Regions from separate parts of the Homo sapiens genome. Here region 2 is linked to region 1. Evidence: fine-mapped expression QTL. A gene starts in region 1. The other region holds a variant in brackets. All regions are shown on one strand. Distances are between the middles of the regions.

What was found.
Region 2: its variant is fine-mapped to the expression of GJA3 in whole blood (TOPMed, PIP 0.94).

The regions. Positions count from the first base shown.
Region 1 is chr13:20,157,359-20,165,358 of GRCh38, reverse strand. GJA3 (gap junction protein alpha 3) reads left to right here and starts at 4,307. Exons shown (of 2, transcript NM_021954.4): 1 at 4,307-4,469. RefSeq lists silencers at 3,657-4,016, 4,247-4,326, 4,487-4,576.
Region 2 is chr13:20,114,702-20,122,887 of GRCh38, reverse strand. It overlaps LOC105370101 (a long non-coding RNA gene), which reads left to right and starts at 3,099. Exons shown (of 3, transcript XR_941719.3): 1 at 3,099-3,183. RefSeq lists a silencer at 4,340-4,399 and an enhancer at 4,570-4,619. The variant G/A (reference allele first, on the strand shown) is at 3,880.

The sequences.
Region 1 (8,000 bases):
GCCACCCTCCATTCTGACTACCCAATTTTCTGGAATTAAATAAATTATCCGACGAGAGTTGGATACAGGTTGTATTAACTGCACAGCCCAGAAAATTTCCACAGGGGACATTTCCAAGGCCTGCAGAGCCCATATGAGACATGCAAATCTCATTTTTCCACATGCGAGATAAGAAATAAACACTGCTTGTTTATATTTTTCTCCAAGTTGCAATCACTTCATAGAAATTATCCCATGGATTTTATTTTATTTTATTTATTTTTATTTTATTTTATTTTAGAGACAGGGCCTTGCTCTGTCACTCAGGCTGGAGTGGAGGGGCATGGCTCACTGCAGCCTCGACCTCCCAGGCTCAAGCAATCCTTCCACTTCAGCCTCCTGAGTAGCTGGGACTAAAGGCACGAGCCACCTTGCCAGGTTAATTTTTTAATATTTTTGTGGAGACTGGATGGGGGGTTGGGGTAGGGGAGCATCTCACTGTATTGCCCAGGCTAGTCTCGAACTCCTGGGCTCAAGCAATCCTCCTGCCTTGGCCTCTAAAAGTGCTGGAATTACAGGCATGATCCACCACACCCGCTAACTGTTTGTTAATTAATACTTTGTGATTCAGAAACAACAGATTGTAAAATCCTCCTGTGGACAAAAATTGGCACAGAGCTGGGCGCAATGAATTCTCTGAGTAGAGAAAGTGGAACCTTCCCATCCGTCAACACCCAGCCCAAGGCCTTGTATGAGGAGAAGTTCAATAAATAAAAGTTGGATTGCTGGAATTCGTTTTTTTTTTTTTTTTTTTTTTTTTTTTTGAGATGGAGTTTTGCTCTTGTTGCCCAGGCTGGAGCGCAGTGGCACGATCTCAGCTCACTGCAACCTCCACCTCCCAGGTTCAAGCAATTCTCCTGCCTCTGCCTCCCGAGTAGCTGGGATTACAGGTGCGCACCACCCCACCATGCCCGGCTAATTTTTTGTATTTTTAGTAGAAACAGAGTTTCATCATGTTGGCCAAGCTGGTCTCAAACTCCCGACCTCGGGTGATCCACCCGCCTCGGCCTCCTAAAGTGCTGGGATTACAGGCATGAGCTACCACACCCAGCTGGATTCATTTTTTTAAGTGCTATTAGAGCTATTTATAGCCCGCAGAGTAACTGAAATACTATACATTGTCAATCAGCATAGTAAGTAAGGAATAGTGACGGTCTATACAAGTAATTTTGTTTTTGTTTTTTTGTTTTTGTTTTGAGATGGAGTCTTGCTCTGTCACCCAGGCTGGAGTACAGTGGTGCAGTCTCAGCTCACTGCAACCTCCGCTTCCCCGGTTCAAGTGATTCTCCTGCCTCAGCCTCCTGAGTAGTTGGGATTACAGGCAGGTGCCGCCACACACGGCTAATTTTTGTATTTTTAGTAGCAACGGGGTTTCACCACGTTGGCCAGGCTGGTATCAAGCTCCCGACCTCATGTGATCCGCCCGCCTCGGCCTCCCAAAGTGCTGGGATTACAGGCGTGAGCCACCACCGTGCCTGGCTTATACAAGTAATTGTAAACGAAAAGGAAAAAATGGAGATACAGTTTTCTCGTGCATCTTAAACTTTGGTGCTTAAAAGCACCATTAAATTCTGCTTTCACATGAACACACACAAGATTACCACGTTTGCTCTGGGCTGCTGCGTATTGGAAGGACATACACATTCAACAAATATTTGTTGAACTTCCATTCTGTACACAAAGCACAAAGAAAGATTCGTTCACAGTCCGTGTGGGTACTGGAAAGCAGTTCCAGCCCTGCCTGCCAGGGGGCACCCCAGGCAAGCACATCTCAGTGGCTGCTAGAAAGTGAATTGAGGCTGAGTCTCTCCACACCCAAGTGTTAGGCGTTCTAGGCTCAGAAAGAGACAATGACAATGCGGGCAATTCTCTCTTCACTGTGTCCTCTTCTTTGCTAGAAATGTTATTAGAATATGGAAATGTGACATTCAGCACTAATCAGTTTGACATATGAATATATCTATACACATATTTCTCCCTGAAATTGGCCTAAATACTCTTTCTTGGAACCAAATGAGAAGCAAACAACCTTTACAACTAAACATTAAACCATAAGATGAACATCTTAGTTGTCTACCTAGAAATTGTACAGTATGACAAGTGTAAAGAAACTGCTAGCTTCTTAGTTGTGCTGGTCTTTACACAATACCACTTTAAAAATTGTTTTATGGTAGTAAAATATACATAACCTTTAATTTACCATTTAACCTTTCTTAATGTGTACAGTTCTGTGGCATTAAGTACATTCACATTGTTATGCAACCATTACCATCATCTGCTTCCAAAACTATTTCTATCTTCCCAAACTAAAACTCCGTACCTATGAAACTCTATCTTCCCGTTTCCCACTGCCCCAGCTGCTGGTAACCACACTTCTACTTTCCGTCTCTATGATTTTGACTGCTGTAGGTACCTCATGTAAATGGAATCATACAGTATTTGTGACTTTTGTGACTGGCTTATTTCATTTAGCATAATGTACTCAAGGTTCGTCCACGTTGTAGCATGTGATGGGGCTCTCCCTTTTTAAGGCTGAATAATATTCCACTGTAGGTATGCAATACATTTTGTTTATCCATTCATCCATTGATGGACACCTTTTGGCTATAGTAAATAATGCTTGTATGAACATATATGTAAAATATTTGTTCGAATTACATAATATAATTTAAAATCTATATTTTAATAAAAATTTTAAAATTATTACAATATTATATTTCCATTTTTATCCTCAGAATACCAATAATAGCATTTGGCAAACAGACTACAAATATTAACAATTCCTAGTGCTTTTGTGATCAACAAAAAAAAAAAAACTATTCCTGTGCTTCTCAGAGAAAATGTTTTAAATGAGAAAAATATTCAAGTATTTTAAGACCTTCAAAGGTAGCATTTTTCAATTAAAAATTAAAAACTAAGTCTCCGTAACTACTACCTACTCCATACATACACCGCAAAGTTCCCAAAGGGAGAAGATATTTTAGATGCGCCTTTAGGAGCTTAGTTTTTCCTCCTTGGGATAACTTTAAATTCAGATCTCAGCAGAACAAACGCATTTTTCAGGGCAAGCCAACTGCTAATCCGAGTAGATCTAAACGCTAACGAAGGCAGCCGACGGAAGCTGCTCCATGAAGACACGAAAACTATCAGACTTGCATTTTGCCACATTCCTGGAATAAACTTATTACTCATAAAGGTGATTTTGAAGCCATTTCAGCTTGTGGAATGATCACCGAAATGCAGTCCACCGATATTTGTTAATATCCCAGGCTGGTCAAACCCCACTCCAGACCTTGGGGGACGGGGAGGGGACCCGCGGCCTCTCTAGGCTGTGCCCAGACAGCAGACAAGGACGCGATGCCGCCCTCGGTCCGCGGCCTTCCGCGGTAGGCGTCCCTCTCAAGCGTGGTAAAACCACCCCGAAGGGAACAGAAAACGTTAAAATCTTCGTTGGGCGCCAGCAGGCAGGTTAGGCCTCGCCCTGGCATCTCGTCTCCAGGACCAGATGGAGCGAGTGACCCGCGGGGACACCTTCCCGGTCACCTCGAGCGCAATAAAACAAGTTCTTTTTTTAAAAATAAGCATCCGTGTGCCTGCCGGCTAAATTAAGTGTGTCTGAAGAGAAGCAGGATGGCGGCCGCTATTTATAACCTCCCGCCCCGCCCGGGCGCCACTCCTCGACAGCACCCACGCTGTGCCCGGCGGCGCTTCCGCGGGGACTTCCTGCTCGGTGGTCCCCGCCCCGCCCCGCGCCAGCCGTCCGGAACCCGCGTCCCCAGGCGGCTGCAGGCGGGCGAGACCTAGGTGCCCGACGCCCACGCGCCTCCGACCGTGGGAGCGCCCGGAGAGCAGCTACCTCGCCGGGCCTGCGAAGCCCAGGACAGGCGCGAGCGGGGCGCGGGCTGGCGCATCTGCGTGCGGTGGGCGCCCCGCAAGCGGGTCGGGCCCGCCCCAACAGCCCTCGGCTCTCCTCTCACGTCCCGCGCGGGCATGCCCCGGAGTGCGTAGGCGGCAGGGAAGAGCCCCCGCGTCCACATCCCCAGGGCCCGCGCAGGTGCGGGATGGGGATGCAGGCGCTAGGCATGGACGTGCGCGCGGGGTAGGGTGTGGAATGCGGACGCGGGCGAGTGCTGTGGCTGCGCGTACAGGGTAGGGATGCGGGGGCGGTAGGTGTGCGTGCTGGGAAGCGCGCGGGGCGGGGCTGTTCGGAGGCGGCGGGGGCGTGGCGCGGCGTCCTGAGCTGCAGCTTGGGGGCGTCGGGCGCAGCGCACACTGGGGCTGCAGGGATGGCGATCAGGGCGGGGAGGTCGGGCCCTGGCGCGGGGCGCACGCGTGAAGCAGCACCGCACGTGTGAAAGGAATTCTTTTCAGAGCGGCCGGGAGCCCTGCTCCGGAGGAACGCACCCGGGTCGCCGCCGCGGCAGAGCGGGGTAAGGCGGGCCGGGCGCCCCGGAGGCCAGGCACAGGGGCCGAGGGCAGCGCGGGGCGGGGACGGGCGGGTCGGCGGCGCAGCGGAGCTGCCGGGCGAGCCCAGCGGGCTGAGACTGCCGAGCTGGGAAGCCGAGCCCCGGCACGTGTGCGGCTCCCAGCCCCCTAGGATTCTTTCAGGATTCTTCAAAAAGTTGTGGGGAGCTCGGGAAATTTGTGAGAAACTTTTGGAATAATTGATCTTCCTCCTTTGCTCCTGGAGGTCTGGAGAGCAGCGCCTCGTTTGGCTTCCCTTGATGGACAGTCCAAGGCCGAGTTTAAGTTGTTTTCCTGGGGTTGTTTTCCCCCTCGGGTGGAGGAAGCCGGGCTGTCCCGGACCGTCAGGCTGTAGGGCTCCTAGCGATGCTGAAATGCTTGAAAACTCTAAGCAGATGTCACCGCGCCAGCTAACGGCGCGCACCCAGCCGTCCACGGGCATTCAGCATCGCCGTGCTCCTAAAAGTCCTGTTGGGATTGTTTAGAAACAAGGTTGGCTCGCCTACATTTTTTTCAGAAACTTTTTAAAACTTTTTATTTTTAAGAAACACTGTAGCTATTAATGCCACGACCAGATTTCTCGACCTGTATGTTTGTTATGATGTGTTCAACTATAAGGAATTTGCAGAGGAGTGGAAAAGCACTGTCCGAGCCCCTTCCCGTAGGAGACTTGAGAAAACAAACGGCAGTGACGCGGCTGCATTTGCTTTGTTGCCGACTCCACACTAGTGAGCAAAATTCATCCTACCATGTAGAGTTCTCGGTTCGTGAATATGTGACTGCAACTTTAGAACTCCAGTTTTTATTTTATCAAGATGTCTCCAAAACATGCCATTTAAAAATGATTCTATACAAACAGCTGACAAGCGAATTATGGGTCTCATCACCCAGGAATTAAAAACCATGGTGATTTATGATGTGCGCATCACTTCACTGGCGGTCCATCCATGTGCAAGACAAACATTAAAAGATTAAAGAGGAAAAAAGAGGGATTTATTTTCCGAATATCAGTGTGTTCAAAGTAAACATCAGCTAGTTTGGCACAGATTCCACCTGCTCAGCAGTTTGGTTCATATCGAGATAAGCATCTCATAAGGGCAATGCATGTGTTGCTGTAGTGGAAAGTAATTCACGAAACGGTACTACTCTAACAAATCAGACAGTACTGTTTCTTAACCAGGAACCGTTAACTGGCTGAAAGCTGTCTTAAAAGAATGGCGGGTAACAAAATTTTTTGCCAATAAGGAAAATATTTTTGACCCAGTTTTCTTGAATGTTACTCACATTTTAACTTATTATATTCATTTCTCTTAGCTAAAATAACGTGTACACACTACATTTGAAACGAAAAATTACGTTTATCGCAGCCTTTTTTTTTTTTTTTTTTTTTTTTTTTTTTGAGATGGAGTCTCGCTCTGTCACCCAGGCTGGAGTGCAGTGGTGCGATCTCGGCTCACTGCAACCTCCCGAGTAGCTGGGACTACAGGCGTCTACCACCATGCCTTCTTCCTCCCTCCGCTGGATGGTAGCTATTCCCAGTACTATGTAGTACTTACATTTTGATCTGTTTTTTGCCACTCTGCCTCTCTCATAGATTGCAAATGAATCTCCTGAGAGTGAGGACTGGATCTTAATTGTTTTGCTGTCCTCAGTGTGTGGCACAGTGCCACACACAATAGGTAATAATGTTTTATAATAATAATAAATGTTTACTGAATTGAGGAGGGAAAAAATCCAATATATGTGACAACAGCATATATGTCTCTAAAAAACAGTATGTTTCTGCAATTTCTGTATAATGCTTAAAGGCAATAAAAATAATAAAGTTTCATCTTAATTTTCATTCCTACAGTGGTGGAAAATTCCTCATGATAACTAGGTTAGTACTCTACTGCTTGCTTTTTTTCTTTTTCTTTTTCTTTTTTTTTTTTTTTTTTTTTTTTGAGAGTTTTGCTCTTGTCCAGGCTGGAGTGCAATGGCACAGTGGCACAGTCTTGGCTCATTGCGACTTCTGCCTCCCAGTTAAAGCGATTCTCCTGCCTCAGCCTCCCTTGTAGCTGGGATTACAGGCATGCGCCACCACGCCTGGCTAATTTTTGTATTTTTAGTAGAGACACAGTTTCACCATGTTGGACAGGCTGGTCTCAAACTCCTGACCTCAGGTGATCCACCCACCTCAGCCTCCCAAAGTGCTGGAATTACAGGCGTGAGCCACCGCGCCCAGCCTACTGCTTGCTTTTTTAAAACTCCTGTACATCTCCAAAAGTAATGGTTGATGTGAATAGTTTCCACACTCTTATGTGTCTTATTTAATTTGAAGAATTGGTTTGCTTTAAATTTACTGTTAACAAACTAATGATACTAGATATAAAAATTAATTAGCTTTTTACATTTAGACCTCCTGATTATCTCCATGGATTATTGCTTATTTATTCCTGAAACTCCATTTCCTGTTGATTTTAAAATAAATCTTTTATTCTAGAACATAGAAGCAATTTCTGGTTACACAGCAATAGAAGTAGATTTGAGTAAGAAAAGTGAAATCATACTAATACTATAGAAATTATTTCTGCAAAAAAATAGAAAATATTTTGACAGATGTAATTTTTATCAGTAATATCAGTGGAATAATAAAATACCATAATTATCAGGTTGTGGGATTTTGTTCACTAAGCAAGAGTAAAAATATCTGAATTTACTTTAAAAAGATAATTCTGACTGGGTGTGGTGGCTCATGCATGTAATCCCAGCACTTTTTGGGAGGCTGAGGCAGGAGGATCTCTTGAGCCCAGGAGTTTGAGACCAGCCCAGGCAATATAGTGAGATACAGTCACTTCAAAATATTTTTTATAAAATTAGCCCAGTGTGGTGGTACAAACCTATAGTCCCAGCTACTCAGGAGGCTGAGGCAGGAGGATCATTTGAGCCCAAGAGATTGAGGCTGCAGTAAGCCATAAGTGTGACAGAAAAAAAAAAAAAGATAATTCAAATTTGTGATGAAGTAATTGGGCTGTCCTTAGCATATCAGTAATATTTAACCATTTTTATAAAAGATAAAAATACCCCCCTTGAGACAGTCTGGACTGGAAAAAAAAAGTGAAAGCTTAACATGTACTCCAGCCCACATTTCTAAACATATGTATTCCAGTATGTTAGAATATAATAAAATGCAAAAGGCATGTAATACATAGTGTCATAAGCTGAACAGTCTGCCTGCTGCATCGCCCATGAAGTGGTGTGGGAGGGGAAGGGAAGTTGGGCCAGGAGTTGGAGGTTGGGCACTTCTGTGCTGGTGTCAGCACTGTGGGCTGTGCAACTTTAGGCAAGTCTCAGGACCCTCTCTGAGCTGCCATTTCCCAGTTTGTAAAATAAGGAGCATAAACTAGACCACTTCTAAGGTTCATCCCTTGCCAAAATGCTAAGATTCCATATTTCTTCTGTCGATAATGAGTAAGGTTCCTGAAGGATGTCATTTGGATTTATATGAGGAAATTGCC
Region 2 (8,186 bases), 43 kb after region 1:
ATTAAAGGCCTAAATGTAGAAGCTAAAACTGTAAAACTCTTAGAATAAAACAAGGGGAAAGCTTTATGACACTGGATTTAGCATCAGTGGTTTCCTGGCTACAACACCAAAAGCACAAACAACAAGAAAAATAGACAAATCAATCAAAAGTAAAAACTGTTGTGTATCGAAGGACATTATCAACAGAGGGCAGCCCACAGAATGAGAGAAAATGTTTGTAAATCATATATCTGATAAGGGTTTAATATTCAGACTATATAAGCAACTCAACAACAACAACAAACCCTCAACTACAAAAAACAAAAAACTCCTAAACTCAATGACAAAAAAATAAACAACCCAATTTTTGTTTTTTTGGTTTTTTTCTTTTTTGAGACTGAGTTTCACTCTTGTCACTGGGGCTGGAGTGCAGTGGCACAGTCTCGGCTCACTGCAACCTCTGCCTCCCAGGTTCAAGCAATTCTCGAGCCTCAGCCTCCCGAGTAGCTGGGATTACAGGCACGTGCCACCATGCCCAGCTAATTTTCATATTTTTAGTAGAGACGGAGTTTCACCATGTTGGTCAGGATGGTTTCGATCTCTTGACCTCGTGATTCCCCCACCCCAGCCTCCCAAAGTGCTGGGATTACAGGCGTCTGCCACCATGCCCTGCTAATTTTTGTAATTTTAGTAGAGACGGGGTTTCACCATGTTGGCCAGGCTGGTCTTGAACTCCTGACCTCAGGTGATCTGCCCACCTCGGCCTCCTAAAATGCTGGGATTACAGGCAGGAGCCACCACGCACAACCCAAACAACCCAATTTTAAAATGGGCAAAGGACATGAATAAACAGTTCTCCAAAGAATACATACAAATTGCTAATAAGCACCAAAGATGCTGAATGTCAGTAATCACTGGGGAAAGGGCAAATCGAAACCACAATAAGATACCACCTTGAGCCCATTAGGATGATAGGGTACATTTAGAGAAATATATTTGGTCTTTGTCCCTGGTTCCTAGCACAGAGCCGCTAAAGCCCTTAGAATTTCCTGAGTGATAGTAGTGTCTTTTGTTATTCATAATGAAGCACCTATTGATCACATCTGAGTTTATGCTACTGAGGTGACTTAGGGTGAACCCTTAGATAGCTTCAGGATGGGGTTGGTCACCGGAAAGACCAGGTAAGTAGGAGGTTGGATCCTTCAGCCTCACCCCTAGACCTGTGAGAAGGGGAGGGGACTAGAAATCAAGCTCTAAAAAAGCTCTTGAACAAGCAGGTTGGAAGAGTTTCCAAGTTGTGGGAATGTGGTGCACCTGCAGCCCCCACCTCATACCTTGCCCTGCGCGTCTCTTCCCTCCAGCTGTTCTATGTACTTGAGCTCAGTCAATGAACACAAATTCCCTACAGTATTGGTCTCTGACACCAAAGAACAACATTTTGACAAATTGAGTTTTAAAGATTTAATTGACTCTTATTAGCAATGTATGAAACAGGCAGCCTCCAGACTACAAAACAGAAGGCACTCGGCTGGGTGTTGCAGAACAATCGGCTTTGGTAAGGCAGCTCAAGCAGGAATGAGGAAATCGTGTGGTGAGAAAAGTGCATTGGTTATCATTGGGTGACTTTCTGAGGCGGAGAATAGGGTCTGGAGGCAGGGAACCTAAGGCCGATTTCACGCTGACTTCCTAGAACTAAATCAAAAGGAAAACCCCAACTTTTCACACCTAAGTAACAAAAAAACCGGAGGTAGCCGGGCATGGTGGCTCACGCCTGTAATCCCAGCACTTTGGGAGGTCGAGGTGGGCGGATCACCTGAGGTCAGGAGTTTCAGCCCAGCCTGGCCAACGTGGTGAAACCCCGTCTCCACTAAAAATACAAAAATTAGTCTGGCGTGTTGGCGGGCGCCTGTAACCCCAGCTACTCGGGAGACTGAGGCAGGAGAATCGCTTGAACCCGGGCGGCGTAGGTTGCAGTGAGCGGAGATCGCGCCGTTGCACTGTAGCCTGAGCGACAAGAGTGAAACTCCGTCTCAAAAAAGAAAAAACAAACAAAAAACCGGAGGCTACTCCCTTTGCAAACCCCCACCCTTTTCTGCCTGGCAGATGGAAAATTGAAAGTGTCTCTGAGGGCAGCCAATCAGACGTTTACATAGGATTGTAACTTTGTAACTTCACTTCAGCCTCTGATTGGTCGCTTCCCACAACCAATCAGCTTGATTGTGGGCCAAGTCTTCCTTTGCATAGAACTGTAACTTTGTAACTTCACTTTGCAAACAGAGGCTTGCATCGGGTGTAACCTTTGTAACTTCACCTCAGCCTCTGGTTGCAGGTCACTACTTCATTTACATAGAGTGTACACCAGGTAACCAATGGGAAACCTCTAGAAGGTATTTAAACCCCAGAAAATTCTGTAAAAAGAGCCCCTATGCTCCAGCGGCTCCCACCCTGTGGAGCGTACTTTCATTTTCGATAAATCTCTCCTTTTGTTGCTTCCTTCTTTCCTTGCTTTGTTTGTGCGTTTTGTTCAATTCTTTGCTCAAAACGCCAACAACCTGGACCCCTCCACATTTCCTTGTATGAGTTTAAGCGGAGGAAACCTCTCTTATGCAGGCTCAAGTGGACTGGCCCCCTTTTGACTGGTTGCTGGTAGTCTCCTATTTTTTCAGGAAAACTGGCCCTGGTGGGGGATTTTCCTGTTTTGTTTAAGTTTCAGTTTGATTACGTGGCACTTAGCACAAGTGATTCCATTTTGGTCTGGCCTACTGGGGCCTAGTGCAGGAGCTCAGCCCAATTCAATGGCCTCCCATAAATCTTATTTAACACTTAGCACCACTGTGCACATGTGGAAGGTAAAACTCAGAGACGCTAAGTATCTGAGTGTGTCACAGAGCTAGTAAAAGGCAGAGCTGGGATCAGATACATTGATTCATTCACTCAAAAACCTTTTTTTATCGAGTGCATACTATGTATCAGCCTCTGGGTACTGAGCATGGGAGCAGAATCAGACACCCCGAACTGACAGGGCTCACAGACGAGAAGGGGAGACAGTTCTCAATCATAGAAATCACTTGTTCTCACAAACGGTGACACGTGCTATGAAGAAAAAGGCCTGAGAACTAGGAGGGCATCTAGAGGCGCCCTTTCTGGTCTAGGCGTCCTACAGGCAGCTGGAGGAAGACGTCTGAGCTGACATCAGATTCATGGGTAGGAGTCTACCAGGCCAGGGGGGTGAGTGCCTTCCAGTGCACAGAAAAGCTGTCCGGTTCCCGAAAGTTTCTTTTTCTTTCTCTCTCTGTGTGTGTGTGTGTGTGTGTGTGTGTGTGTGTGTGTGTGTGTTTGGGGGTCGGGGCAGGGTCTTGCTCTGTTGCCCAGGCTGGAGTAAAGTGAAACAATCGGCTTCACTGCAGCCTCGACTCGGGCACAAGCAATCCTCCTGTTTCGGCCTCCAGAGTAGCTGGGGCCACAGGAGCGCCACCGCGCCCCGCCTGAAGGTTTCTTCTCTCCATACTGGTAAAATCCTGAGCTGTGTTTGAGCCTCTCACAGGAGGAAGGTAACGTGACCTCCTCCAGCTCACTCACGTGACACTCGGTCCTCCTTGCGAACGGCTCTCTAAGAAGCTGTGGGAGTGACGCGCAGCCCCATTCCTCCACCCTTCTTGTGCCGGGTGTCCCCCACAGAAAAAAATGCGCCGGCCCCAGAGCTGCCGCCGACTGTTAAGGAAGGCCCTTTGCACCCAAGAATGGAAGCGGTGTGGGTCGGGGTGAGGGCCCCGAAAAGGGTGGTGAAGGCCCTGGCAGAGAGAACACTCAACGTTCTCTGCCAGCTGCTTCCCTGCTGGTCCCGGGAGCCCCAGCCTCCCTTCCACAGGGGCGGGGGAGGACACGGGGCGGGGGCGACAC[G/A]CGTGGGGGTGGGGCGGACGTGGGCGGAGACACATGGGGGAGGGGCAGGCACCTGAAAGGAGGCGACACCGGGAGGAGGGGCACCCCGCGGGGAAGGGGTGGGGAGGGAAGCGAAGGGGCACCCCGCGGGGGAGGCGAGGGAAGGGGGCATCCCGCAGGGAAGGGGGTGGGGGAAGGGCACCCCCCGCGCGGGTCTGCCCTGGCTGGAGCATCCCGGGGTCCTCAGACTGCAGGAGCTGGGAGACCGAGACCAGCTCAGCTGCTCTTCCTCACTTCTGTGCCAAAAGGGAAAAGAAGTGCCGCGTTGGTGTGGCTGAGAAACGCCTCCTGGAAGAAGGGGCCTGACCCTGGAGCTGCCATGTTGGCACTTTTCTTCCAACCGCAGCCCGCCAGGCACAAACGCGAAGTCCCTGGAAGCGCAGCTCGAAAAGACAGGCGGCCCTCCAGGCTCCCTCCCTGGCGCTCCGGGCTCCACGCGGCCCTCGGCGCACTCGGAGCAGAGGGATGGGGACCCCGCCGAGGATCCAGGCCACCTGGGCAGGCCGGGTGCTCAGGACGCAGCCCGGGCTGTCCCATCGAAGGTGACAGCTCGCCCACCTCCCTGTGGCCTCGGGCGGGCCACGCTGTCATCCCTTGGAGGCTCCCCGCCAGGGGCCTGGCCTGAGCGCTAGGATGACAGGTGTGGGATGGTGAGGCTGCCTCCTCTGAGTTAGGTCAGATAGCCCAGAATATCTGCTTTGGAACGGAAAGGCCCCCCATTTATGTCACTGATGCTCGGCTGGTCAATAAAGCAGGACACAGAAGTTGTAGGAAAATTGATACTCCTCACCCCCGATTCAATAGAGCTATTTTCACTGGTAGTTCAAAAGAAAATGTGGCCAGGCGCAGTGGCTCACGCCTGTAATCCCAGCACTTTTGGGAGGCCGAGGTGGGTGGATCGCTTGAGGTCAGGAGTTCGAGACCAGCCTCGCCAACAAGGTGAAACCCCAACAAGGTGAAACCCCGTCTCTAATAAAAATACAAAAAGTAGCCGGGCGTGATGGCGGTTGCCTGTAATCCCAGCTACTCAGGAGGCTGGGGCAGGAGAATCGCTTGAACCCGGGAAGCAGAGGTTGCAGTGAGGTGAGATGGTGATGGTGCCACTGCACTCCAGCCTGGGTGACAGAGTGCAACTCTGCCTCAAAAAAAAAAAAAAAAAGAATATGTGGGCATATTTTAAAACCACCACAGCTAGTAATAGTCATAACAAAGAATTATATCATTTATTCATTTATTTGCAAGACTATCATATTTTAAATGCTGCTCCTCCTGATGTTAGAAAGTGTCTGGTTTTTTTTTTGTTTTTTTTTTTTACCATATTTGACAATAACATAAGTCTATTGGAGAAATTTTTACTGTAGTGTATTTATTTTTTTGAGAAGGTCTTGCTGTGTTACCCAGGCTGGAGTGAGTGAAGCAGTCACAGCTCACTGCAGCCTCAGCCTCCCAAGCTCAAACCATTCTCCCATCTCAGCCTCCCCCACATCAGCCTCCCTACTAACTGGGACTACAGGCAAGCACCACTGTGCTTGGCAATTTATTTTATTATTTTATTTTATTTTATAATTTTTTGTAGAGACAAGGTCTCACTATGTTGCCCAGGCTGGTCTTGAACTCCTGGGCTTATGCAATCCTCCGCTTCAGCCTCCCAAAGTGCTGAGATTACAGATGTGAGCATACACCATATCTATTAAAATTAAATAGTGTATTTAATAATTTCTTTTTATGAAGTTAAAAACAATAGTCCTCAAAAGAAAGAGTTTCTTAAAAACTCATTTAATTAAAGAATTAAGCTTTACGCAAAACAGATTATATCCACCGATGGTTACAAACATCAAAATTATTCAAAAGTCCCCCCAAACACTTCATCCTGGAATTTTAACTAATGCCTGAAATTAACTAATGCAGGAAACTTTAACTTAAGAACTTTCCTGATTCTTTAAACCAAATGTAGAGTTACTCTATGGGGCTTCAAGCCCCTACCTTCTTTATTTGGTCCTTTACAGTCTAAACCCTTTGGACATCACTAACTTAAAGGTTACTTTGATTTCAACTATCTTCTTTATACTCATCTCTATTTTCTGATTTTTCTAAAGTGAGTTTATGTTGTTTTCATAATTTTTATAAAAGTTATTTTCATTTTTAAAATTAACTTCAACTCTAAGAAATTTTTCAGGTCACATTTAAAAAATAGAAAAATGGGAGTTTTTAATGGCTTTATTAGATTTGTGTGTATGGATTACATGTCAATAAAAAGTTTACTCAAAAAACAAACCAGTTGTCATTGTGTACACCTGTAGTTCCAGCTACTTGGGGAGGCTGAGGAGGGAGGATCACTAGAGCCCAGGAGGTTGAGGCTGCAGTGAGCTACGATCATGCCACACTGCACTTCAGCCTGTGTAACAGAGCAAGATCTTGTCTCTAAAAAGGAAGAAGAAAAAGTACCCCACAAAAGTCTCAAACTGAAGGCTCATGGGCCAAATCCAGCCTCAGGGGACTTTCTCGGGCCTTGTTGACTTAGTTACCAAAATACAGGACAGTCCTCCGACACCACTAGGGGCTCCACTATCCGCCTGAACTGTGGCGGCCCTACCCACCCCAGGAGCCCTGGCAGGGAGCAAAGGGAGCTGCCCACTCTGTCCCCCCTTCTGACAGTCCCTGCACTGTCCCTGTGGTCTCTAGATGACCGGTGAGTAATCTCTTCATTAAGCTCTGCTTCAGTTATTCAAAGGTGGAGTGTTGTCCTTGCTGCTAGTTCCCCAAGCAGATTTCACAGGGTTGATGTGAAAAGCCAGACAGGTAGGGACAACATGGTTATAGATCCTAAAGAAAGACTAGAATGAAGTGACAATGATTATTTCTGGAATTACAGATGATTCTTATTTATTTTACCTTCTTTTTTTTTTTTTTAAAGAGACAAAGTCTCTCTCTGTCATCCAGGCTGGAGTGCAGTGGCCCCATCATAGTTCACTACAGCCTTGACCTCCTGGGTTCAAGCCATCCTCCCACCTCAGCCTCCAGAGTAGCTGGGACTATTTTTTTTTTTGTAGAGATGGGATCTCGCTATGTTGCCCAGGCTGCTCTTGACCTCCTGACCTCAAGCTATCCTCCTGCCTTGACTTCCCAAAGTGCTGGGATTACAGACATGAGCCACAGTTCTTAGTCCTTTATTTTATTTTCTATGGTCTCTATAATGCACTATTTTTTTATAACCATACCCGATATAAAGGGGCAAATGCCATTAATAGTATACATATTTATAATTAAAAATGAGGCCGGGCGCAGTGGTTCATGCCTGTAATCCCAGCACTTTGGGAGGCCAAGGCAGGTGGATCATCTGAGATCAAGAGTTCAAGACCACCCTGGCCAACATGGCAAAACACCATCCCTACTAAAAATACAAAAATTAGCCAGGTGTGGTGGTGAGCGCCTGTAATCCCAGCTACCCAGGAGGCTGAGGCAGGAGAATCGCTGGAACCCAGGAGGCAGAGGCTGCAGTGAGCTGAGATCACGCCACTGCACTCCAGCCTGGGCAATAGAGCAAGATTCCATCTCAAAAAAATAAAAATAAAAAATAAAAAAATAAGGCCAGGAGTAGCCCCAGAGGGAGTGTCTTGTGAGACGAGGATGCAATGCTAGTGTAGGGACATTGTCACAATAACCTAAATAGGACTGTAACCCCAGCACCATCCAGTAATGATTTTTCTGTTTTCAGGAGAAGTGGGTGGTTAACGGACCATAAATGCTGCTTGTTAAGCAAGTCAGCTACAGTGCTGTGGGCCCATTGGAGAAAAGATGCTTTGCATATCCATAAACTTCTAACACTGCAATTCTCCTGCCTACAATTTGCTTTCTTTAGGAAGCCTGTTTTCCTGAATATATATATATGTACGTATATATGTATGTGTATATGTATATATTAATATACATATATATATGAGATAATTTTCTTCTCCGTTTTCTTTTTTTTTTTTTTTGAGATGGAGTCTTGCTCTGTTGCCCAGGCTGGAGTGCAGTGGTGCCATCTCAGCCCACTACAACCTCCACCTCCCAGGTTCAAGTGATTCTCCTACCCCAGCCTCCCGAGTAGCTGGGACTACAGGCACCTGCCACCATGCCCAGCTAATTTTGTTTTTTGTATTTTTGGTAGAGATGTGGTTTTTCCATGTTGGCCAGGCTGGTCTTGAACTCCTGACCTCAGGTGATCTGCCCACCTCGGCCTCCCAAAGGGCTGGGATTACAGGCATGAGCAACAGTGCCTGGTCCTG